Linked DNA regions of Homo sapiens: regions 2, 3, 4 and 5 are each linked to region 1. Evidence: fine-mapped expression QTL. A gene starts in region 1. Each other region holds a variant in brackets. All regions are shown on one strand. Distances are between the middles of the regions.

What was found.
Region 2: its variant is fine-mapped to the expression of IL10RA in whole blood (INTERVAL, PIP 0.99).
Region 3: its variant is fine-mapped to the expression of IL10RA in whole blood (INTERVAL, PIP 0.95).
Region 4: its variant is fine-mapped to the expression of IL10RA in whole blood (TOPMed, PIP 0.98).
Region 5: its variant is fine-mapped to the expression of IL10RA in whole blood (TOPMed, PIP above 0.99).

Annotation. Positions count from the first base shown.
Region 1 is chr11:117,983,944-117,989,047 of GRCh38, reverse strand. It overlaps IL10RA (interleukin 10 receptor subunit alpha), which reads right to left and starts at 2,654. Exons shown (of 7, transcript NM_001558.4): 1 at 2,514-2,654; 2 at 546-666. The coding sequence starts at 2,580. RefSeq lists enhancers at 1,477-1,776, 3,167-3,226 and silencers at 2,577-2,856, 2,877-2,976.
Region 2 is chr11:118,041,056-118,046,159 of GRCh38, reverse strand. The region is part of intron 1 of SMIM35 (small integral membrane protein 35); the gene reads left to right. Among named protein-coding and RNA genes, the nearest start is that of TMPRSS4, 33 kb to the left of the region's middle. The variant AT/T (reference allele first, on the strand shown) is at 2,881.
Region 3 is chr11:118,022,037-118,027,140 of GRCh38, reverse strand. All of the region lies in intron 1 of SMIM35 (small integral membrane protein 35), which reads left to right. Among named protein-coding and RNA genes, the nearest start is that of IL10RA, 38 kb to the right of the region's middle. The variant G/A (reference allele first, on the strand shown) is at 2,580.
Region 4 is chr11:118,048,926-118,054,029 of GRCh38, reverse strand. All of the region lies in intron 1 of SMIM35 (small integral membrane protein 35), which reads left to right. Among named protein-coding and RNA genes, the nearest start is that of TMPRSS4, 26 kb to the left of the region's middle. The variant G/A (reference allele first, on the strand shown) is at 2,259.
Region 5 is chr11:117,947,571-117,952,674 of GRCh38, reverse strand. No RefSeq gene overlaps it. Among named protein-coding and RNA genes, the nearest start is that of TMPRSS13, 21 kb to the right of the region's middle. The variant C/G (reference allele first, on the strand shown) is at 2,796.

The sequences.
Region 1 (5,104 bases):
GGCTCACGCCAGTAATCCCAGCCCTTTGGGAGGCTGAGGCGGGTGGATCACCTGAAGTCAGGAGTTCGAGACCAGCCTGGCCAACATGGTGAAAACCCGTCTCTACTAAAAATGCAAACATTAGCCAGGCATGGTGGTGGACCCCTGTAATCCCAGCTACTTGGGAGGCTGAGATGGGAGAATTGCTTGAACCCAGGAGGCAGAGGCTGCAGTGAGCTGAGATTGCGCCACTGCACTCCAGCCTGGGTGACAGAGCGAGAAGCTGTCTCAACGAAACAAAACAAAACAAAACAAAAAAGAGAAAAGCCTTGGCACAAGGCTTTTCTTACTCTGGAGTGAGCAAAGGCTCTGGCCTTTTCACCCAGAGCTCCCGGCACATTGCTCAGCAAGGGAGTCTCAGTCAGTACTTGTCAACTGCTGGCTATGTGTTAGGGGCCCTCAGGCACTCACTTCATTAACAAGGCAGGTATCTTCCCATGCTAGGAGAGTAGAGGACAAGGCGGGGATTCACTCCTCCCTCCCCCTCCCTCTTCCCTTTTCCTCACCTCAGGAGCGCCACTTCATAGCAGGTACTTTCAGACTGATTTGGGATGGGTGTCCAGTGGAGGATGTGGTGGAAAAATTCTGCTTCAAACCACACAGACGGAGGGCTGGGCAGCTCTGTCCCTGGGGAGAAGAGTGTCAGTACCACAGCTGGGAGGGGGGGCAGGCATTGATGACCCCAATTTTACCAAAGAAGAAAGGGAGGTTCAGAGAGGCTATGACTCGCCCGAGGCCAGCGGAGCCCGTAAGGGGCAGAGTGGGCACATGAATCCACATGTGTCTGATTCTAGAGCTAGTGTGTCTCCCTAAATCACTGCCCTGTGCTCTCTGTGATCAGAAGCTGCAGTGGGGGCTGAGAAGAGCCAAGCTGAGTCTGATGCCTACCAGGGAAGAAGGCAGGGGCCGAGGGCTAAGCAAGTTGGCAATGAGCTCTCAGATGTGTTAGTCCCTGGCTCTGCCCAATCCCTGTCCCTGCTCTAGCACTATTCCTAGGCTTGGCCCCATCCACACACCTGATCCCCACCCTGGCTTGGCCCAGGCTCCAGCTCAAAGCCACCTCACTAAGTACACAGACAGCCTGCTTGCTGACATCTGCCTCCTTCTCTTCATAGGTCTCCTGGGCTCCCCAAGCTAAGTGCTTGCCTCATTCCCTAGTTTCTGGGAGGGCTTTGCCTATAGCCAGATGTCCAACCTCTGGCTGGGCAAGGACAGATGGAATAAATCAGCTCTGGCTCTACACATGGCTGAGGACATCCCCACAAGAGCTGGCACCTGTAGCTCCGAGGAGAGATACTCAATACCAATTCCTAGCTCTACTCTCCCTTTACCCCCAGTACACACCATTCACCATGGGAAACACTGCTGAAGGCATTGTCTTCTTTGTAAGAATGCAACAAACATTTCTACTTTAAGAGTCTTGTTGATCAAGCAGACTGAAGTATGTGCAAGGCCAACGGCTGGTTGGTTCCCTTTCTCTCCTCCTTGATCCTCTAAGTTCTCTCCATTTGACAGCGACTCTGCTCCCGCTCCCTAGTGTTCTAACTTCTCTACATCTCTCTAATCATGCACCTGTTTTTTATTTATTTTTTGGGGGGGAGGACTCTGTCATCTGTCTCTTGCTTTCTTTCTTATACCGTCTTTGATCTTCACGTCAGTGCCTTGATTTCGAAACATTAGACGGAAAGTGAAAAATGCAGCGAGTCGTTGTGGTATTTGGGCTGCACATCTCCGACTCAGCTCTCGATCACGTGAATGGCTGACTGCATGTTTTACTTTGTATTTTGGTGTCATGAAGAAGCAGTTTCGGTCCTTGCTCTCTGTCTCTGCTCTTGGTCCTTCCAACTCCCGGCTCTTTCATTCTGTCTCTGGGGTTTACTTTTCTTAGTTGCAGAAACCTTGCCGGAGAACTGTCTGGGTTAGGAGCCTGAACTGGGTTAGAAGCCTGAACTGGCTGGGTTAGGAGGAGAGAGGCAGGGGGCAGTGGGAGTGAGTTGGGGGCTACAGGTGGAGCAAGGGGGATCAGATCGGGGTGATCAGTGAGGGATGAAGGTGAGATGGGAGAAGGACAGACAGAGGTTAGTTGAAGAGTCGACTAAGAGAAGGGAGAGTCAGGAGATCAAAATTATTCCCCAAGGGGACAAGAAGTCCCATCATTTGAACCTAAACAGCAAAAAACCTAGAGCTAAACTTACGGCTCATCTAGAAGTGGGTGGATGATGAGGTTTGCGGGTTGGGGGTTTGGCCTTGCGCATACTTCTCTATCCTTCCCAATCCGTCAGTTCCTGTCAATTTCAGCCTCTTCCACTTCCACAACAGGTGAGCCTGAGATCCAGGTTTGCCAGAGTAAGGGAGCACCCGGGCACCGCTCTGCCAGAGGGCCAGCCAGCCAGGGCTCTCCACTGGATGGAGAACTTTAATGGAGCGGGCGCGGAGAGGGCAGGGCAGGGAAGGGCCGCGTCCCGGAGCCTTACCATGAGCGTCTGAGCCAAGACGGAGGCTGAGGAGCGCCGCCAGCAGCACTACGAGGCACGGCAGCATCCTGGGCGCGCCGCATCGTCCGGGGCCGGAGCGGAGCCGGCCTGCGCGCCTCCAGCTACCCTTGGGCTGGGACTGACAGCTCCGCCGCCCGCTCCGCCAGCGCCCCGCAGGGCTGACGTCAGCGGGGCGAGGCCTACAGACGCCCCGCCCCCGAGGCCGCGGACGGGGAACCACTGTCCCACAGGGCTACCGCCTGGGGCAACCCGAGGCTGTCCTGGGGCGCTAGCGGGCTCCGGCCACCCCTCCCTTTCCTTCCCTCTGGGCCTCCAGTGCCTTCGGATCAAAGTGGTCCGGGTAGCCCGGCCGGCCGTGGGTACGTGTGTGTGGGTGTGTGCGCGCGCGCGTGTGTGCATGTGCTGGGAAGCAGGTGGCCAGGCACAGCCTCGGCCCTGAGTGCGGAAGGTGGGGTGAGGGCGTCCGAGCCGCTTTTGCCTGGCGTGCCGGCTTGGCGTTAAGGATGTGGCCGCGGCCGCTCCGAATGGGGAGGAGGTAGTTGCAGGCCCTTGAGGGCAAAGGCGCCAGGACGCCGGTGTGAGTCTTGGCGTTGCCCCAGGGCCTCCCCGTCTGGGGGTCTGAGGACACCGATGGATGAATACTGAGTAGTCCCCTACCTAATTGTTGGAGGGGGGTCCACAACTAAGCAGTTTATGCAGACCTGCCCCCAAAGTCCCAGGAAGCTGAGAGACCCAAGAAAGAGGCTTTTAACCAGCAGCTCAGCAGCTGAGCCTCAAACCGCGATTTTTAAAATTTTTTTATCTATTTTTTTTTTTTACAGTCTCGCTCTGTCGCCCAAGCTGGAATGCAGTGGCGTGATCTCGGATCACTGCAACCTTCGTCTCCCAGGTTCAAGCGATTCTCCTGCCTCAGCCTTCCGAGTAGCTGGCATTACAGGCATGTGCCACCACGCCTGGGCTAATTTTTGTATTTTTAGTAGAGACGGGGTTTCACCATGTTGGCCAGGCTGGTCTCGAACTCCTGACCTCAGGTGATCCACCCGCCTCAGCCTCCCAAAGTGCTGGGATTACAGGGGTGAGCCACCGCGCCCAGCCTTAAACCGTGTTTTAAACTTAGTTTCTCTTCTTTCCTTTTTTCTCTTCCTCCTCTGGGCCTCAAGATATAATTTTGAGACAAACTGCATGTATGTTACCTCTCATCTTAAAACACAGCCTCAGGACGTGCTGTGACCTCCACTCCCTTTCCTGTCCCATACTGTACTCCCATGCCTTACGCACGTTTATTTACCTACGTGCTTGTTAAGCACACGCTATGCTCTTACCTGGTCATATATTTCCTTAGATGCCTCAGGAGCTGCGTCCTGATAGGGACCAGGCACCTCCGGAATTCTCTCTCCAACAAAAGCTTACTTCAGGAGTTGAACATATACCCTGCTGAAGAGTAACTAATTTATAACCTGGCAGGATCCACGATTGCACCAGCCCCTCCACCAAATAAGACGATAATTAAAGAGGACCACTGGAGCAAGTCACACCACCTGGTACCTCCTAACCTCCCCCTTGCCTTTTCTGCATTTCAGATCCTTTCTTAAAAAACCCCTGCGTTCCCCCCATGAATTGAAGAGTGGAATTGTTTGCTGCTCTTCCCCTGCTAGCATGGCAGCTAGCAGATTTTCCTTTATTATCCATTCTTTCTACAAGCAGAGAGCAGCCAGATCCTTTTGCAGGTTACAGGCTGACACATCCAGTTTCTTCGAAAAAAACATTTAATAAGGACTTATAAACAGAAGCTACGTTTGTGTCTCCATGATTCACCCCCAGGACCAGGGCTTATAGACCACAGGGGAAGGGTGATTCAGAAAAGATGTGTAGGACAGTTGAAGTATGATAACATCAAGGTTGTTTGACCTAAGGGCCGGATTTACAGTAAGTGTTTGCACTTACACAAGGAGCAATTGATAAATTGGGAATCTCAGAGGTCTTCTGGGAGGCTCCAAAGCCAACACGGCCAAAACTGTGGATTAGCATCCAACATGGAGTTGCTTTAGCCTCCATAAGGACTTCTCCCAGTCTCTTCTGGGTTTCCCTTGCTTGCTTGAAATCTGATATTCAGACCAATTTTTGTGTTGGGTAATAGCACTACTGGAGTGCTGGGTAACACCTCAGCACATCCTCAGTCTCTCGCACCTCTGTGTCACTTGGCTCATCTGAGGCCATCTCCAGGTGAACCAAATATGTGAGGATATGAGAGACAGACTGTCCATCACTTTTTCTTGGAGGCTGACACCTGCTTCAAAGTGTGTGTGTGTGTGTGTGTGTGTGTGTGTGTGTGTGTGTGCACTTGCAGTCATATATGATTTGCAGTGGCCAGTCTGTGGATTTGGATTTCATTGTGGTGTGGAGAACGTTGTCTGTTTGCCAAGTGCATATGTGTGTTTGGGACTGTGTGTGCATCCCTCAAGCCCTGCCCTTGTTCTCAGACAAACCAAAGAAGAGGGGCTCAGGACATTTCTGGCCAGCAAGGCCCCACTCCAGGCCTGCTGCCCCACCCACCCGGCCATACCCCGCCC
Region 2 (5,104 bases), 57 kb before region 1:
CCTAACTGGTCTCTGTCCAGAGGAGGACAAAGGCTACTGATAAATTATTGAAGAGCTGCCAACACTCTATGCTGTTCTAGAAAATTTCACTCTAAGTGAAGGAAAATAACTTATTGAATATCTACCATGTGTCAGGAGCCATATAACTCTCCTTTCACATACACGTCTCACTTAATCTTCACGTTAACCTTGTGAAGTTAATATTTTAATCCCCATTTCAACATAAGAGAGGATTAAAACTCAATCTTGCCCAGAGTAATGATATTTTAGCTTCCAGATGGCCTGGCTCCAAGTCTTTTTCCGTCATCACACACTGCTAAAGCAAATATCCCGATGGTCAAGAGTTAAAAAGATCTGCCTGAAATCTGCTGTCTGTTCATTCATTATACTGGGTTGAAAGATTCAGAGCTGTACATTATCAGAGAGAGAGTGAAGGTAAAGTTTAGAGAGCAGTAAACAAACCAATGGGTCTAGTTTCAAACAGGAGATACTTGATTTTTTATTGTTATGTGATTGGTTTGTTTTCTTCAGCAATATTATTCATCACACAAATATTTCTATTGCAAAAGATGAAAATCATGTGAAATTGATGATACCTGTTTTTGACCTTTAAAAATGACAATTTTATATGGTTCAAGCTAATACTAAGGCAAAACTTGAAAGGCTCTTTTTACTTCTACTCCCTACCCCACTCCCCTGGTTCTTCATAAACCCTATCATCACCTGCTTTACACCTGCCCTGACTTGCCTTAATCATAGGGAGAACCGCAACTTGGTGACAGCCTTTCTCTCTCTCTAGTGTGTGTGTGTGTGTGTGTGTGTGTGTGTGCATGTGTGTATACCATAACTAGAATTATGTGATATCTATTCTTCTGCAACTTGAACTGATCTTTAAAACGTGGAATTGATGAGCAACAGATGAGCAACAAAGGAGGAATTCTTGATTCCAGCTGGAGAAAAGTGTAGGCTCCATAAAACCTGATGTATTGAGGGTGAGGGGGCCTAGAAGCCAATGGAGATGAAAATGTTCCATTTTTCTTGCCAAACCTGGACCTTGGGCAATATCATCTCCACATCTGCCTCCACCATTGATCCTAATAGTAAAGCCTAGGGCCTCCCACTAGGGTCTGTTGTACTTAGGTTTTGAGTTTTAGAACTTCCTTCTGATTTTGTTTGATGTGTTGCTAATCTTCCAGGGGGTTGTGCTGCTTGCTTCTTCATTTTTTGTTTTGTTTTGTTTTAAAGTTCCTTGTCAGTATAATCTAAAAGCTAGAGATGTCCAATCACCTGCTGGAGGTTTCTTCTAAGTGATCAAACTAGGAGGTTTTTTGTTTGTTTGTTTGTTTTGTTTTTTTTTTAGTAGAATGAACTTTTTTTTTTTTTTTTTGGAGATGGAGTCTCACTCTTGCCCAGGCTAAAGTACAGTGGTGCAGTCTCGGCTCACTGCAACCTCTGCCTCATGGGTTCAAGCAACTCTCCTGCCTCAGCCTCCGGAGTAGCTGGAATTACAGGTGCCCGCCACCACGCCTGGCTAATTTTTGTATTTTTAGTAAAGACAGGGTTTCACTGACCTCAAGTGATCTGCCCACCCTCAGCCTCCCAAAATGCTGGGATTACAGGCATGAATCACCGCACCCATCCTAGAAGGAACTTTAAATGGGAGTTGGAGGGGCATCTGGAGAGAAATCATGATTTAGATGGGCGGTGGGATGACCATTTGCAAGATCTCCTGGCTTTAGGTCAGTTCATCCAAATGGCTTGGTAAATAGTAAGGTGCATAATGCCACCATTACCTTCATGCTGCTTGGCACGTACTCACGGCTGCATTTTTTTTTTTTTTTTTTCAATTCTGCCAGACTTCTCAGTGACTAAGATTTGGTTTCTGGAATATGAGTAGATGGATAGATAAGTACAATTAGGGTAGATTCTTACCTAAGTGTAAGGATCTTGATACCTCTGCTTTTTGCATGGGTTTTGAGTGTTACATATCTGCAGGAAACCTGGATTATAGAAAATGCATTTCAATGCACTTCTTCAAGTTTAAGGATTTAGGAACTCCTTCTCTCCAGGGGATAATTTAGACAGAGATAAATATAGGTTGGCATTTTATCGCTTTTTTAACAGCTTTGTTTAGATATAATTCACATAACATACAATTCTCCCATTAGAAGTATATAATTTAATGTTTTTAATATATTCATGCATATCTGCAGCCACCATTACAGTCAATTTTAGAACATTTTCATCGCCTAAAAAAAAAACCCATACCCTTTAGCTAAGATAACCCCCTCCTTTTCTCCCCACTTCCCCTGGCCCCCCCATAACCTACTTTCTTTTTCTTTTCCTTTTTTTTTTTTGAGATGGAGTTTCTCTCTGTCGCCCAGGCTGGAATGCAGTGGTGCGATCTTGGCTCACTCCACCTCCCGGGTTCAAGCGATTCTCCTGCCTCAGCCTCCCGAGTAGCTGGGACTACAGGCGCCCACCACCACGCCCAGTTAATTTTTTGTATTTTTAGTAGAGACAGGGTGTCACTGTGTTAGCCAGGGTGGTCTTGAAATCCTGACCTCGTGTTCGGCCCGCCTCAGCCTCCCAAAGTGCTGGAATTACAGGTGTGAGTCACTGCGCCCAGCCTCTACTTTCTTTCTCTATAGATTTTCCTCTATAGATTTTCTGGATATTTTGTATAAATAGAATCATATAATATGTGGACTTCTGTGACTGGCTTTTTTCACTTAGCATAATGTTTTTGAGGTTCATTCAAGTGGCATGTATCAATACTTCATTTCTTTATATGACCGAATATTCTGTTATATGGATATACCACATTCTGTTTATACATTTGTCTGTGGATTCCTTAAGATTTTCTTTAAAAAAAAAAAA[AT/T]GTTTTACCAAATACCCAGACTTCAAGGAGGAGGATTTTCCATATGTAAGACTGTGTTATCTGTGAACAGAGATATTTTCATTTCTTCCTTTCCAATCTGGATACCTTCTATTGCTTTTTCTTGACTATTTCCCTGGCTAGAACCTCCAGTACAATGTTGAACAGAAGTGGTGAGACCAGACATCTTCGTCGTGTTACTGATCCTAGGAAGAAAACATCTGCCTTTTACCATTTAGCATGATTGCTGTGGGTTTCTCATAAAGGCTCTTTGTCAGGTTGAGGAAGTTCTCTTCTGTTCCTAGTTTGTTGAGTGTTTTTATCATGAAAGAGTGTTTGATTTTGTCAAATGCTTTTTTTGCATCTATTGAGATCATCATGTGATTTAAAAAATTCTACTGGTACGATGTGTTACAAGAATTGATTTTCAGATGCTGAACTAATCTTGCTCTCGAGGGAGAAATCCAGCTTGGTTATGATGTATACTTATTTTTAGATACTGCTGGAATTGGTTTGCTAGTATTTTGTTGAGGATTCTTTATTCTTTTTCCACATACAATCATTCCTAATTGTTGAGGATTTTTGCGTCCATATTCATAAGAGATATTTTTTCTCTGGTTTTCTTTTCTTGTGATGTCCTTGTCTGGTTTTGACATCAGGGTAATATTTGCCTTATAAAATGAGTTGGGAAGTGTTTAGCCTCTTCTATTTTTTGGAAGAGTTTGTGAATAACTGATATTAATTCTTCTTTAAATGTTTGGCAGAATCAGTGGGAAAGCTAATTAGGCTTGGGTTTTTCTTGTGGGTATTATTTTTTATTGCTAGTTCAGCCTCTTTATTTGTTATACTTATTCAGATCATCTGTTTCTTCTTGAGTCAGTTTTGGTGGTTTGTGTATTTCTAGGAATCTGTCTATTTCATCTAAGTTATCTATTTTGTTGGTGTACAACTGTTCATTGTATTTCTTATTATGTTTGTTTCTGTAACGTTGACAACAATGTCCCCTCTTTCATTTCTGATTCTAGTAATTTGAGTCTTTTTTTTTCTTGGTTAACTTAGCTAAAGGTTTGTCAGTTTTGTTGATCTTATGCCAATTTTTTGTTTGTTAGTGTTCTCTATTGTTTATTTTCTATTTTATTAGTTTCCACTCTAAGCTTTATTTCCTTTCTTCTGCTTGCTGTAGTTGAGTTTGTCTTTCTTTCTCTCTCTCTCTTTTTTTTTTTTTTCATTTGTGACAGAGTCTCACTCTGTTGCCCAGGCTGGAGAGCAGTGGTGCAATCTTGGCTCACTGCAACCTCCACCTCCCAGGTTCAAGCTATTCTCCTGCTTCAGCCTCCCGAGTAGCTAGGATTACAGGCATCTGCCACCATGCCCAGCTAATTTTTGTATTTTTAGTAGGGACAGGGTTTCACCATGTTGGCCAGGCTGGTCTTGAACTCCCAACCTCAAGTGATCCACCGACTTCGGCCTCCCAAAGTGCTGGGGTTACAGGCATGATCCACTGTGCCCGGCCTGTGTTTCTTTCTCTAGCGTCTTAGAAGATTAACTGGAAGATTAGGCCATTGATGTGAGATCTTCCTTCATTCCTAAAGTAGGCATTTACAAATATAAATTTTTCTCTGATCATTGCATCCCACAAGTTTTGGTGTACCGGGTCTTTATTTTCATTCATCTCCAAGTTTTTTAAATTTCCCTTTTGATTTATTCCTTGATCCATTGGTTATAGGTCGTATTTAGGAGTGTGTTGTTTAATTTCCACATATTTGTAGAATTATTCCCATTTATTTTGCTATTGATTTCTAATTTTATTTCATTGTGGTCAGAGAATATACTTTGTATTATTTTTATTCTTTAAATTTTATTGAGGTTTGTTTTACGGCTTGGCATATGGTCTATCCAGGGGATGTTTTATGTACACTTGAATGCATATTTTGTTGTTGAGTGGAGTGTTTTACAGATGTCTGTTAGGTGTAGTTGGTCCGTAGTGTTGTTCAAATCTTCTATTTCCTTGATCTTCTATTGAGTTATTCTATCCAATATTAAAAGTGGAATTTTGAAGCTTTCACTTATTATTGTTGAGTTTTCTATTTCTCCCTTCATTTCTGCCAGTTTTTGCTTCATGTATTTTGATGCTTAATGTTTTAATTATTTTTTCACTATTTTTAAGTGGTTACTCTAGGATTTACCATGTACATCTTAGCTTACCAGAGGTCACTTCAGATAGCT
Region 3 (5,104 bases), 38 kb before region 1:
CAGGAGAATGGCGTGAACCCGGGAAGCGGAGCTTGCAGTGAGCCGAGATTGCGCCACTGCAGTCCGCAGTCCGGCCTGGGCGACAGAGCGAGACTCCGTCTCAAAAAAAAAAAAAAAAAAAAAAGTGGTGGTGGTGGATTTTTAAAAAATTCACATAGCTGACAGCCTGTTGGAGAAACATCTGAGAATTTTCACCTGTAGCAACATATGTGGGGCAAAAGTTGTATTGACCTTTTCTTAAATTTGGATTTTGTGAAGAGGCATATCAGTTTACCATAGATTCTTGGCTACCGAGACTTATATAAGACCTGCATTTTATATTTTTATTTTTTAAAAAAAGAAACAGGGTCTCACTGTGTTGCTCAGGCTGGTCTCAAATTCCTGGGCTCAAGCAATTCTCCTGCCTCAGTCTCCCAAAGTGCTGAGGATTACAGGCATGAGCCACCACGCCCAGCCTAAGACCTGCATCTTAATGAATGCAGAGTTGGTAGATACATTATTTCCCTCTGTAAAATCCTAGGTAAGGGTTCATGTGCCCATCTGATGTCCCAATTATTTTGGCCAGTAATTAGAATATATTAATTAATCAAGCAAGAAATTTATTCTGGCAAGATCACCAAGAGTGATTTTTCTAAAGCCAGATGTTCTAGTGGGAGCCCCAAGATAATATATCTGTTTGGAATATATTAGCCACAGAGAAATCACCTTTAATTATTCATATAGTAGAGATATCCTAGACCTATTTCTGAGAAAAACTGTGGCTGTGCCTGAAGATTGGCCCACCTCAGTATAGGCATTGACCAGGAGAGAAAAAGGGTCAGGCTTCTCCATTTCTATTGAGGAAATACTCCCTCATCCCCAGCTTTTTCATTTTCTATGTTTAGTTCTAAAATATGTGGCTTTACCACAGGCATCACATTACCCAACTTCAAACTATACTACAAGGCTACAGTAACCAAAACAGCATGGTACTGATACAAGGAGACACATTAGACCAATGGAACAGAATAGAGAACCCAGAAATAAAGCTGCACACCTACAACCATTGGATCTTTGACAAAGGCTACAATAATAAGAAATGGGGAAAGGAGTCCCTATTCAAAAAATGGTGCTGGGATAGCTGGCTAACCCTATGCAGAAGATTGAAACTGGACCCCTAACTTTCACCATATACAAAAGTTAACTCAAGATAAATTAAAGACTTAAATGTAAGACCTAAAACTGTAAAAATCCTAGAAGAAAAGCTAGAAAATACCATTCTGGACATTGGCCTTGGCAAAGAATTTATGACTAAGTTTCCAAAAGCAGTTACGACAAAAATAAAAACTGACAAAAGGGACCTGATTAAACTAAAGGGCTTCTGCACAGCAAAAGAAACTATCAACAGAACAAACAGACAACCTATAGAATGGGAGAAAATATTCACAAACTATGCATCCAACAAGGGTCTAATATCTAGAATCTATAAGGAACTTGGGCAATCTGACAAGCAAAGACCAAATAACCCCATTAAAAAGTGGGCAAAGGACATGAACAGACACTTCTCAAAAGAAGACATACAAGTGGCCAACAAACACGAAAAAATGCTCTCAACATCACTAATCATTGGAAAAATGCAAATCAAAACCACAGTGAGATACCATCTCATGCCAGCAAGGAAAGCTACTATTAAGAAGTCAGAAAATAACAGATGTTGGCAAGGCTGCAGAGGAAAGGGAACGTTTACACACTGTTGGTCGAAATGTAAATTAAAATGTAAATGTAAAATGTAAAGTTCAGTCACTGTGGAAAGCAGTTTGGAGATTTTTCAAGGAACTCAAAACACAACTACCATTTGACTGCACAATCTTATTACTGGGTATATACCCAAAAGAAAATAAGCAGTTCTACCAAAAAGTCACATGCACTCATATGTTCATTGCAGCACTATTCACAACAGCAAAGACTTAGAATCAACCTAGGTGCCCATCAACAGTGGAGTGGATGAAGAAAATGTGGTACATATACACCATGAAATACTACACAGCCATAAGAAAGAACAAAATCTTCTCCTTTGCAGCAAAATTGATGAAGCTAGAGGTCATTATCCTACGTAGATTAACACCAGAACAGAAAACCAAATACCACATGTTTTCCGTTACAAGTGAAAGCTTAACACTGGGTACATATGGACAGGGAAAAATAGACACTGGGGACCACTAGATCGGGGAGAGAGGGAGAGGAGCAAGGGTTGAAGAACTAACTATTGGTAATAGTAATGCTCACTACCCGGGTAATGGGATCATTTGTATCCCAAACCTCAGCATCATTCAATATACTCATTTAACAAACCTGTACATCTACTTCCTGAATCTAAAATAAAAGTTGAGGCTGGGCACGGTGGCTCATGTCTGTAATCCCAGCACTTTGAGAGGCTGAGGTGGGCAGATCACCTGAGGTCAGGAGTTCGACACCAGCCTGGTCAACATGGTGAAACCCCACCTCTACCAAAAATACAAAAATTAGCCAGGCATGGTGGCGGGCAGCTGTAATCCCAGCTACTTGGGAGGCTGAGACAGAAGAATTGCTTAAACCTGGGA[G/A]GTCGAGGTTGCAGTGAGCCGAGATCACACCATTGCACTCCAGCCTGGATAACAGAGCGAGACTCTGCCAAAAACAAAACAAAACAAAACAGAACAAAACAAAACTGGCCTCACCCTTTATAAGCAATACAGTGAACATGTAGCTCAGGACCTTACTAGACACCATACCCTTGACCTGTATATTTTCCAACCTATACATATGGTTTAGTTAAAAAGAATGATTCTTACGGAGGGTCGGTTGAAAGGAAATGTAGTCTATTTCTTCCTAAGGATAGTTTAGGCCTTCCTTGATGTAATAAAAAAAGAGTTATGATATCAACCATGGGCACCAGAATTCCTCATAGGAAAAGAAATGTCTTGTTTGAACAAATAACTTGACAGGTTCTTCAAAATTGGAAAATTGTTGGCCATATCTCATCAAAATTTTTTTTTCTGTTTTCCCTCGTTTTCTCCTTCAGGGAATCTAATTACACATATATTAGGTGGCTTGAAGTTGTCCTGCACCTCACTAATACTCTTTTCTTTCTTTCTTTCTTTTTTTTTTTTGGAGAAGGCATCTCACTCTATCACCCAGGCTGAAGTGCAGTGCAACCTCCACCACCCAGGTTCAAGCATTCTCCTTCCTCAGCCTCCCGAGTTGCTGGTATTACAGGCACACGCCACCACACCTGGCTAATTTTTTTATATTTTTGGTAGAGATGGTGTTTCACTATTTTGGCCAGGCTCGTCTGGAACTCCTGACCTCAAGTGATCCATCCACCTTGGCCTCCCAAAGTGCTGGGATTACAGGCGTGAGCCACCACGCCCAGCTTTTTCATTTGTTTTATTACTTTTTTTCCCCTCTATGTCTCACCTTGGATAGTTCCTATTGCTATGCCTTCAAGTGCACTACTTTTTTCTTCTGTGATGCCTAGTGTGCTGTTAATTCCATTCAATGTAATTTTCATCTCAGATGTTGTAGTTTTCATCCCTGGAAATAATTTGGGTCTTAAAAAATGGGGTCTTTTACACAAGAAGGGGAACATCACACTCTGGGGACTGTTGTGGGGTGGGGGGAGGGTGGAGGGATAGCATTAGGAGATATACCTAATGCTAACTGACGAGTTAATGGGTGCAGCACACCAGTATGGCACATGTATACATATGTAACTAATCTGCACATTGTGCACATGTACCCTAAAACTTAAAGTATAATAATAATAAAATAGAAAAAAAGGGTCTTTTATAATTTGAGACTTATTGAATCTCTCTTTCTCCCTCTCCCTCTTTTTCACACACACATGAAATTGAGGCTTTTGGTGGTTAAATAACTTGCTGAAGGCCTCAGACTGATGAGTGAATAGGATTCAGACCCAGGCTGCAGGATTCCAAGGCCTGTGCTCTGTTGGTTGTTCTGTTCATTATGGGTCATTTTGCTCTGCCTCTCTGAGTGCCTGGTAATATTTGACTGAATGAGGATATTGTGAATTTTACTTTGCTGAGTGGTAGATATTTTTGTTTGCCTATAAATATATTGGGAAGCAGTTAAGTTAGTTGGAAGCAGTTTGACCTTTTTGGGTCTTGGTTTTATGATTTGTTAGATGGGTTCGGAGCAGTAGACAAATCATAAAACCAAGACCCAGTGTAGTGGAAATAATTAGCCTTAGGCTGAACAGTCTAAGGCTAATTATTCTCACCACTAAGGCAAGAACTTCCTGAGTTCCCTATCCAATACCCTGTGAATTACGAGTTTTTCTAGTCTGGTTTATGGGAATAGGCCCTGCTTCTAGCCCTATTTGAATGCTAGACACTGTTTCCCACGAATGCTTTCAGATGATTCTCTGGCCTCAGGTAGCTCCTTTATACACAGGCACTCATTACTTATTGAATACTTGAGGGGGTCCCTCTGCACATAGCTGGATTCTTTACCTGATGTAGCTCTTTCCTCTGTCTTGTGAACTTTAGCTGCCTTGGACTGTCTCCTCAACTTACATTTTTGCTATGTTGTGTTTTCAATATCATTCAGATCTAAGTATTTTCTAATTTCCCTTGTGATATCTTCTTTTACCCAGGATGTTTTTAGAAGTGTGTTGTTTAATTTCCAAATATTGGGATGTTTTCCAGATATCTTTTTGTCTTTATTTTCCAATATAATTCTGTGGTCAGGGAACATATTGTATATTATTTTAACTTTTAAAAATTTATTGAGATTTACTTACTAAGACTTATTGTTGGGCCAGGGGCGGTGGCTCACGCCTGTAATCCCAGCACTTTGGGAGGCCAAGGCAGGCGGATCATGAGGTCAAGAGATCAAGACCATCCTGGCCAACATGGTGAAACCCTGTCTCTACTAAAATTACAAAAATTATCTGGGCATGGTGGCAGGCACCTGTAGTCCCAGCTACTCGGGAGGCTGAGGCAGGAGAATCACTTGAACCTCACTTGAACCAGGGAGGTGGAGGTTGTTGTGAGCTGAGATTGCACCACTGCACTCCAGCCTGGTGACAGAGCAAAACTCCATCTCCATCTCAAAAAAAAAAAAAAAA
Region 4 (5,104 bases), 65 kb before region 1:
TGCTGAAAATTTAAAATAGTGAAAAAGGAAGGAAAAAAACAACAAAAAACGATCCTGTGATTGTGATTTTTGGGATTTTAGATGTTAGGGGTTTAGACTTTAGAGATTACAATCTTTCAGGATTTTAACATTTGAGGTTACAGTGTTTGCGATTGTGTCTTGGTCCAACTCCTCTTTTTCCTCTCTGAGACCTTGCAGGCAGATGTGGAGACCACATCACTGTCAGAGGAACAGGGGCTGGGGTGGGGGTCTTTGGGACCTTGAATGAGATGAGTTCTCAAAGCTTCCAGGCTAAAGAATAACATAAATGGTAGGACTTGAGCCTCCAAGTGAATAAGAGCCTTGTAAACACATTGCTTTAGGGAATTAAAGAGCTATGCTGGATGTCCAAGGAAGGCCCCACCCGTTGCCTCTAGTTCTTGGGGGAAGGCAACATTTCAGCCACCAGAGGGCGCTCAGGTTGCAGGAATGGTTTCTCAGGACTGCTGTTTGGAGGAGTTGAATAAGGAATCCAAGGAAGGGTTGCCAGAGCATGGGAGCCATGCAGGTGGGACTCCAGGACTGAAGTCCGACCTTTTCAGTCACTCTGCCATTGTCCCTGGCTGAGGCCATCAGTTAATTCATTTATTCAAGGAACATTTGCCCTGTACCTGGGAGCCCTGAGCTAGTAAGCTTTGTGTGTGTGTGTGTGTGTGTGTGTGTGTGTGTGTGTGTGTGTGTGTTTTAGAGAGTCTTGCTCTGTCACCCAGGCTGGAGTGCAACGGCATGATCTCGGCTCACTGCAACCTCTGCCTCCTGGGTTCAAGCGATTCTCTGGCCTCAGCCTCCCAAGTAGCTGGGATTATAGGCGCCCTGCCAACACGCCTGGCTAAATTTTGTATTTTTAGTCGAGATGGGGGTTTCACCATGTTGGCCAGGCTGGTCTTGAACTCCTGACCTCAGGTAATCCACCCGTCATGGCCTCCCTAAGTGCTGGGATTCCGGGTGTGAGCCACCGGACCCGGCTGTGAGCTAGTAGGCTTTGGAGACACAGAATCAGATAAGCCTGTCTGGACCCTGGAGGAACCACAGCCTAGGCTGGGAGGTGGACCTTCAACAGTGCAGTCCCCTGTGGGGTATTTGTGCTATGACAGAGGGACATGCTGAGCGTGGTGGCAGCACCCAGGATGAAGTGTTGATTCTGTCTGGGACCTGGGAGAAGGCTTCCTATTGTTGGAAGTATTTGCTGTGGGTCTCGGAGGGTGAGCAGGAGTGCCCCAGGCTGAGAGGTTCCAGGAGAGGCAGGCAGGGGCACATTATAAGCCAATGCCTATGTTTGGCTGGACAGAGAAATGCCCAGGTGGGGGTCGTGGGATGTGGCTGGAAGGAAGGGGGCGTAGGCGATCACGTTAGGGAAGAGCTAGGGGCTTATCTCAGAGGAGAGAAGCATTCTATGTGGGAGCCAGGGCAGACTCAGGTTCTGTGGGGGCCTGAGGCTTACATAGTTTTGAGGCTTTCTTAGATGAAGAATACAAAATTATAAATACAAACTTAGGAAGAGGGACTTGGAAGGGTCCGTACAAGTGAGCGGCTTGAAGCTTAGCTTGTTGGCCTCCTGGCAAATCCTCCTCTGCGTGGGAGACACATCTTCCACAATCTCCCTGCTTCCCTGCAGGGCCCCAGCCTGCCCTCAGCAGCTCCCCGCTTGCAGCAAACCACCCACTTCCCTCTCACTCCTGCCTCTCGCCCTTCTTTTGTCCCCTGGAGTCCTGAGCAGCCGTAGAAGGCCGGACGCGGGAAACTGGAGTCTGAGTTTTCCTCTGGGGAAAGGGAGGCAGAGCTGCACAGCTGTTGGGGGACGTGGGTGGGGATGACCTTTTCTATGGTGTTTATGCAAAGAGCACCCGCTACCCGCATTGTTCCAAGAGTTGCCTTTGAACCTGGACAGCAACTCTTATTCCCGCTTTAAACAATGTACAGTGTGGAAGAGTTCCCGCTCTTTGCCAGGCACTTTCACACCTCTCATGTCATCAGCGCCATGTTCTAGGGAGGCAGGCAGTACTGTTCCCTCTGCAGAAGGTTCATGATTCAGACACCTGGCAGGTGGGACCTCACACCTAGCACTCTCCCTGCGTCACCCGTGTCTCTTGTTCACAATCAACCCAAGAGTATTAGTATTAGTATAGTATTAGTATTAGTATTAGTATTAGTATTAGTATTAGTATCAACCTAAACTAAGATTGCCCTGCTGGGGCACCAGTACAGGAAAATGTGTCACT[G/A]TAGAGGTGAAACCACAGATGACATGGCTGGCTTTGTTATTCTCCCCTTCCTGTGGTGTGTTTTGATGGTAAGGGTGTGCACAGGTGGGGTGGAGCTGGCAGCCCTTGTTACACTGTCTGCACTGTAGTGAGAGTTCTCACCGTTACCCCCTTCTTGGGCTGTTGGGAGAGCTCTCGCCTGGGTTTAACCTCAATTTCAGGCTATCACCAGTGCAATGGATCGCTGAGACTCAGCCCTGATTTGCAAGATCTGCTGGGTGTTCAATATGAGGGTCTCATCCAGGGCATGGGGAGGAGAGAAGTGGCCGCTAATTTAAGTTGCCTTTAATCAAATAAAGAAAACCGAGCATCCAGCTGTGTTAGACTGTGCTAGGATAGTGCCGAATCAGGCATGGCCTTGTCCTCATGGCTCACTTCAGCATCCACGAATGGCTCCTGTGTGCCAGGCAGTGAGCTGGCTTGTGGGAGACCCAGGGGTGGGTGAGCAAGCTGTGTGCCTGAGTGTGAGAAACTCCCATCTGTTTCAGGATGTCAGCCTTTGTTATAAATCCACAGAGAACAATACAAGGCATAGCATCGTCTGTACAAAACTGGATAGGATAGTTTCTCTGCTTCTTGTGCCACCAGTTAGAATAAAAGACAATGCCTCCGATATCCACTGGTCCTTTCTTGGCTCTGCATACAGGCAAACATGAGCCTGCCTCTACCTCCCTCACACATCTTCACAAAAGCCCAGAGCAATCCCTTCTGTCTCTCCTGCTTTACTAAAGGATGAGAATCAGAAATAGGGGAATGGAATGAATCAAAGCATCTTCCCTGCCCCCAGATAAGCTCTTCTGCAGATAGGGTGGGGATGGATTGGGGGAGGTCACTGGAGCCATTTTCTACAAAGGATGCTCAAAGGTTTGGAAGTCCTGGGTCTGGGATTCAAGATGCATCCCTGTGGCAGAGGTGACAAAGGAGAGAGGAATCATCCAAGTATTTAGGTGTTTCAATGCTTCGGGCAGATCTACAAAACCCCAAAGCCTCTGAACTTGCAACCAATCAAAGCAACCCTGATTTATCCTATTTTCTGCAACATGCATGCATCGGCCGGCACTTATGATGAGGAAGCAAGGGTGGGGGCTAGAAGAGTGAGTGAAATGGAGGCTTTGAGGCAGGAGGACTGCGGGGGTGCTCAGGATGGGTGACCGCCACTTTGTATGTGTCAGTTGTTTCTGCTCCCCACCTTCTTGCCCAAGGTCTGGTGGGGATAAACGGAGAACCAAAGCTGCCTTGGGTCTCCAGATGGCAGGGGCAGCTGATGGTTGGTGTCAGTGGCTGGGTGCTAGTGCCCAGCTCACCTGGGCTGTGCATGACTCTGGCCCACTTGAGCCAGACTTGGCTTTGTCTGGGCAGGGGCCTTGGCCTAGGTTCCCCCAGCTGGCACCCCGTCTTTACAGACCTAGGAGCCCAGGAGGCCTGTGGGGCAACCTGTGCCTGGGATGCTGCCTGGGTGAAGGAAGATGTTCTGTGATTCCCCAAGGCCCTTTTCCTCTTCCATTACTTCATGTGACTCTCACAGCAATAGCACGAGGTATACATCACTCACCAGCCTCTTCATTTTATGGAAGACAACCTGGAAGGTCAGAGTGGCTCACCTGAGATTGTGCAACTGGTGTGTCCCAGGGCTGGGGCTCCAGCACACACTCCTCTGAAGGCAAGCCCTGTGCTCATTCCAGTACTGAGAGACTTCAAAGACCCTCTCTATATCCGCTCCCCACAAGGATCCTGGGCCCCTTGGTACCTTCTAGGCCCCAGTGACTCCACTTCAGCATGAGGTGGTTTGAACTCAGTGGCACAGGTCTCCACAACACCTCCCTGACTATCCTCCCTCAGCATCTAGTGTGGGAGGCACAGTTTGCACGGCGGACACATTGACGGCAATCCAAGGCAGGAGTAGTTAGTGAGGAACGTGGACTTACCCTTGCCAGACTCTTTAGATCACGCCTCCCATCAATAAACAATTTTGCGCATGCACTCTGATATTTATGTATTTATAAAGTATATTTGTATTTATACTCAAACATATATGACCATTAAAAAGCACACACGCAAAAATTAAATTAAAAGCATTAAGGATGGGCCAGGTGCGGTGGCTCATGCCTGTAATCCCAGCACTTTGGGAGGCCGAGGTGGGTGGGTCACCTGAGGTCAGGAGTTCGAGACCAGCCTGGCCAACATGGCAAAACCCCGTCTCTACTAAAAATACAAAAATTAGCCGGGCGTGGTGGTGTGTGCCTGTAATCCCAGCTACTCAGGAGGCTGAGGCAGGAGAATTGCTTGAACCCAGGAGGTGGAGGTTGCAGTGAGCAGAGATCGCGCCACTGCACTCCAGCCTGGGTGACAGAGCAAGGCTCTGTCTCAAAAAAAAAAAAAAAAAAAAAAAAAAATTAAGGGTGGAACAAACATGCGAGAATTGCAGCTTCCCTTCAAATCACTCACAGACGGTTCTGGGGTCCCCAGCCAGTGTCTCAAATTCAATGTTTGGACCAGTCTCCCGGCCACTCTTGGCAGGGGCCATTGCCCCTCTCTGGCTCTGTGTGGCATTGTCTCCTGTGGTCCCTGGTGCCAGGGCAGTGGCTACCCTGTGGAGGCCTGGAAAAGATCCCTGACCCCTGCCCACCCCTGACGTTGCTGCTAAAGCTCACGCTGGCAATGTCCCTGGGAAGTTTAGTGAAATAGCGCTCTTACTTAAAAAAATATATTTTTGGTTGCAAAAGTAGTACATTATGATTATTGGCAAAATCATCATCGTTTTCACTTGCTTTTTTTTTTTTTTTTTTGCAGCTCTTCAGCCTAGGCGA
Region 5 (5,104 bases), 36 kb after region 1:
GGTAATAACGCCAACATTCGCCATGTACCTACTTGGGTCCAGCTAATTTACCTCCATGCGCTCATTTGGAGCTACAGTCCTGAGTGGTAGCTACTCCCCACGTGGCTGCTGGGGACCCGAAAGCTGGCTAGTGTGACCTGAGATGTGCGCCTGTAGTCCCAGCTACTCGGGAGGCTGAGGCAGGAGAATGGCGTGAACCTGGGAGGCGGAGCTTGCAGTGAGCCGAGATCGCTCCACTGCACTCCAGCGTGGGCGACAGAGCAAGACTCCATCTCAAAAAAAAAACCACTGGATATCAAAGAGTTCATATTTATATATATATCCCATTCATTCTTTAATTGATTACATATCTAAATGACAATATTTTGGGTATTCCGGGTTAGAAAAAAGATATGACTAAGGCCAATTTCATTTAAAAAAATGTTTGTGACATGTAGGTACTACATTTTAAAAAATCACATATGCGGCTTGTGTTTGTGACTTGTGTTCCATTTCTAATGGGCAGTGTTGGCCTAGAAGGGAAGGGTTGCCCTCTGCCCCGCTTTTCATTGAGGACACTGAGTAGTTAAGTAACCTGCCAGGGTCCCACAGCCGCAAAGGGTGGAGGCAGGGCTGGCATCAAGCCTGTGACCCCACCTGGCCACACTGCTGTTCTTTCTGTCCTACTAAAGTCTTGAATCTGCACTGGTCAGACGAGCATATGTGCTTGAAACAAGTCATGAACAAGGAGTTTGCACCGATTCCCTGAATCAGACATGCATGGCACCTGCTGCTGTGAGGCACCAGCTCCCACTCGCAGGCTCTGTGCAGGGCATCCGCTGCGACGATGAGAGCCCACACACACTGAGTGCTCACCACCCACCAGGCATGGTGTGGGGCACTGCGTGTGTCTATCCTGATCTGATCCTCACACCGACCCGATCCAGCTGCAGTCAGGAGTTCTGGCTTATAGATGAGGCAACTGAGACTTGGAGAGATGAAATCCATTGCCCAGGGTTACACAGCCAGTGTTCAGTACAGCTGGGTTGCAATTCTGACTTTGCCTGAGCTGTCTTGCCAACCCTAGACTTAGTGGGGAGGGTGACATACATGCTCAGGTGACGCTAACACAGTGTAGAAAGTGACTGGTGATCTAGCACAGGGCCAGAGTGAAGCAGACAGGTGCCCCCTGAACTAGTAGTACTGATAAACAAGGGACACAAGAGAGCTAAACTAGAAAGTCAACGCATCCCAGATCAAATCTAGATACCAGCTGACTTTAGGCTGCAGAGAGACTCAACCACAACTTGGTCTACGTGCCAACAAGAGGAAGAAAGCCTCCGTGAGAGGGAGGGCCTCCAGTGCACAGTACAGGTCTCCCTAGGACTGAGAGGCAGAGCTTGAAGGTAGAGTGCATTTGGTGCTAGAATCCTTCTAGCAGGGTCTGGCCTGGTCAATCCTGGGATGAGGAAGGTCCTCTGGAAGGCTGAAGAGCCTACGAAGTTCGCACACCTCTCTTGTGAGGGTTTGTTGCACACTGGATGAGCAGCTGGCTTCCTGAGGGTTTGCTTCAGTGGCTGAGTCTGTCTGTAGCCTGAAGTGAGCTTCTCTCTGGGGACAGAATTTATTGCTCTGCTGACAAGAGCATTCTGGACTCTGTGGCCACCAGGTTTCTTGTGGCAAATGCATGCACGTCACTTTGGAGAATTCACTGGCCTTTGTCCTGGGCTCTCTCCCTTTGGCTTTGTCTCTGCAAATCTCAGACTATCTCCAGGTCTGGATCTTTCTAGAAAGGTTGCTTCTGTTTACCTGTTCCCCAGGTGCCACCACAGTAGCTCTGGACAGGTGGAGTCAAAAGTGGTGCTGAGCTGCAGGTGACCACCCAGGGTTTACTGCCCAGTTCCCTGGATGGATTCCAGTGGGTATTTGTGTGTATGTGTTGGTGGGGGCAGTGGAAGGGTTAATAATAGGAAGAATTCTTGCTTGTTTTGGGTTGGAGGAGGATAACTGTGTTTTTCTAAAAAGTTAAAAATCACTTTCTTATGCTTTTTGGTTTGATGTGAATCATTTCTTCAGGACCTTTTCATCTCAGAGAATTCACAAACTCAAGGTTCTGGGCTTGACAAGTGAGAAACAAACCCCAGGTTGAGGTTAAACTATCAAGATAACATCACTCCAGCCAGCCAGCTGCTTTCCTTGACGACACCCTCTACCGGAGGGTTTCTCAGCCTCAACATTTGTGACATTTTTGTCTGGGTAATTCTCGTGGAGGGCTGTCTTGTGCATTTTGGGGTTGTTAGCAGTGTCCTGGCCTCGATCCAATTGATGCCAGCGGCATTCCTCACCACTAGTTGTGACAACCAAAAATGTCTAGAGATTGCCAATGTGCCTTGATTGAGAACTGCTGCCCTATGTATTCAAAGGTTCTTTCCAATTTCAACCCAGAGCAACTGCTATGGAAGTTCAAAAGAGAGAAAGTGCTTTTATCTGAATGTTGGGGGCAGGGGGGCAAAAGAAGCATTCTTTCTTTTTTTTTTTTTTTTTGAGACGGAGTCTCACTCTGTCACCCAGGCTGGAGTGCAGTGGTGCAATCTTGGCTCACTGAAACCTCCGCCTTCCAGGTTTAAGCAATTCTCTGCCTCAGCCTTCCGAATAGCTGGGATTACAAGTGCACGCCACCACGCCCGGCTGATTTTTGTATTTTTAGTAGAGACGGGGTTTCACCATCTTGGCCAGCCTGGTCTTAAACTCCTGACCTCGTGATCCACCCATCTCAGCCTCCCAAAGTGCTGGGATTACAGGCGTGAGCCACCGCA[C/G]CTGGCCAAAAAGCATTCATTTTAAAATTCATTTATATATTTCATACGTAGGGTGTGCGTGGTTCAGGGCACAGGGATGGAGTCAGACCTGAATTTAAATCCTGCTTCTCCCACTTATTAGTTATGCCATCTTCAACAAGTTACTTAACATCTCCTGGCCTTAGTTTCCTCATCTATAAAGTGGGAATAACAGCGGTACCTGGATGCAAAGATGAAAAGAGAGATTGAAAGGAAAGAGCTTGTAAGTGCTCAATACACATTGGGGATTATATCCTAAAAATCAGCCAAGGCCTCCCTGCTCCTCAAGATTTAGATAAGACAAGCTTGAATCTCAAGCCCCAGGCCTGATGTGGTCTGGAGCCCTGCTTGAGAGGAATTTCCAGGGGGATGTGTGGGCCACCCTGCCTTTACCTCTGGGCTTCTGTTTTCAAACGTGTGTTTTCTGTTCTGCTCCATGGGTAGCAATCTCAGTTCTTCCCTTGATTTCCACCAAAACCAAGACAGAAACCAAATTAAGAAGTAAAAATCCCCTTGCATAAAACATCCATGACTATGATCGATTTTGTGAAAATGAAGGGCTCAGAGGAGAGACCACATTGTGCCCTGATTGGACACACGATTGAATGCACACATTGATCTTCCTGGCTTGAGAATCACATCGGGCGCCTTGCCATGGGAGTCTCTTATTGAGGCATCATCCTAAGTGCCGTTTCTTCTTTATCTCTGTCTTCCTTCCTCACTGTTCAATCTTCTCCTCCATCTCTCTCTGTCTCCTTCTCACCATTCAGGTGTCATCTTACATCACCTTCTTAGATAGATCCCTGACCTCATTTTTAGAGGTGCCTCCCTTCTTTCCCATTAGCCACTTCCTTTTTATTTTTATTTTTTATTTTTTGAGACAAAAATAATTTTTTTGGTGGGGGGACAGAGCAAGACTGTCCCCCAGGCTGGAGTGCAGTGGCATGACCTCTGCTCACTGCAACCTCCACCTCCCAGGTTCAAGCAATTCTCCTGCCTCAGCCTCCCCAGTAGATGGGACTACAGGCATGCACCACCACGCCCAGCTAATATTTTTGTGTTTTTGGTAGAGAAGGGGTTTTGCCATGTTGGCCAGGCTGCTCTCGAACTCCTGACCTCAGGTGATCCGCCCACCTCAGCCTCCCAAACTGCTGGGATTACAGGCGTGAGCCACTGCGCCCGGCCCTAACATCCTTCTTCTATTCCAGCATCTGATCCAGGGTGTCATAATTAGTTGCCATGTCTCCATAGGCTCCTCTTGGCTGTGACAGTCTCTGGGTAGAGGTGAGCCACCGCGTCCGGCCAAAAATATTTTTAATTAATTAATTAATTTTTTTTGGCGGGGCGGGGGGTGTCTCTCTCTGTTGCCTAGGCTGGAGTGCAGTGGTGTGATCTCCGCTCACTGCAGCCTCAATCTCCTGGGCTCAAGTGATCCTCCCCCCTCAGCCTTCCAAGTACCTGAGACTACAGGCATACTCCACCACGCCTGGCTAGTTTTTGTATTTTTTGTAAAGACAGGGTTTTACCATCCTGAGCTCAAGGGATCCACCCGCCTCGACCTCCCAAAGTGCTGGGATTACAGGAAGCCACCACACCCAGCCCCACCAGCCACTTCCTATCATTTCATATCATTTTCTTTTCTTTCTTTCTTTCTTTCTTTTTTTTTTTTTTTTGAGGTGGAGTTTTGTTCTTGTTGCCTAGGCTGGAGTGATGCCACAATCTCGGCTCACTGCAACCTCCACCTCCCGGGTTCAAGCAATTCTCCTGCCTCAACCTCCCGAGTAGCTAGGATTACAGGCATGTGCTACCACACCTGGCTAATTTTTGTATTTTTTGTAGAGACAGGGTTTCTCCATGTTGGTCGGGCTGGTCTCGAACTCCTGGCCTCAGGTGATCCGCCTGCCCCGGCCTCCCAAAGTGCTGGTGTTACAGGCTTGAGCCACCGCACCCGGCCGTCATTTTATTTTCTTTATGACACTTAATACTACAGAAATCATCAGTTTACTTACTTGTTCAGTTGTCTGTTGCCTGTCTCCCATTCCTTACTAGAATGTAAGCTTCTTGAGAGCAGGGCTCTTGTCTATGTGCACAGCACAGCACTCTTGTATCCAGAACCCCAGCTGCCTTGGAGCCAGTCTTCCTACTATAAGGTTAGGTCTGCAAATGGCGTCATGTTGACCTGATCCCTGTACCTTCATATATCCTGCACAGGATTGAACAGGGATGTCTAACGCTCAGCTTTAAATGATTTGCCAACATTGCCACCCCCTACCTGCCCCTTCACCCCCCGA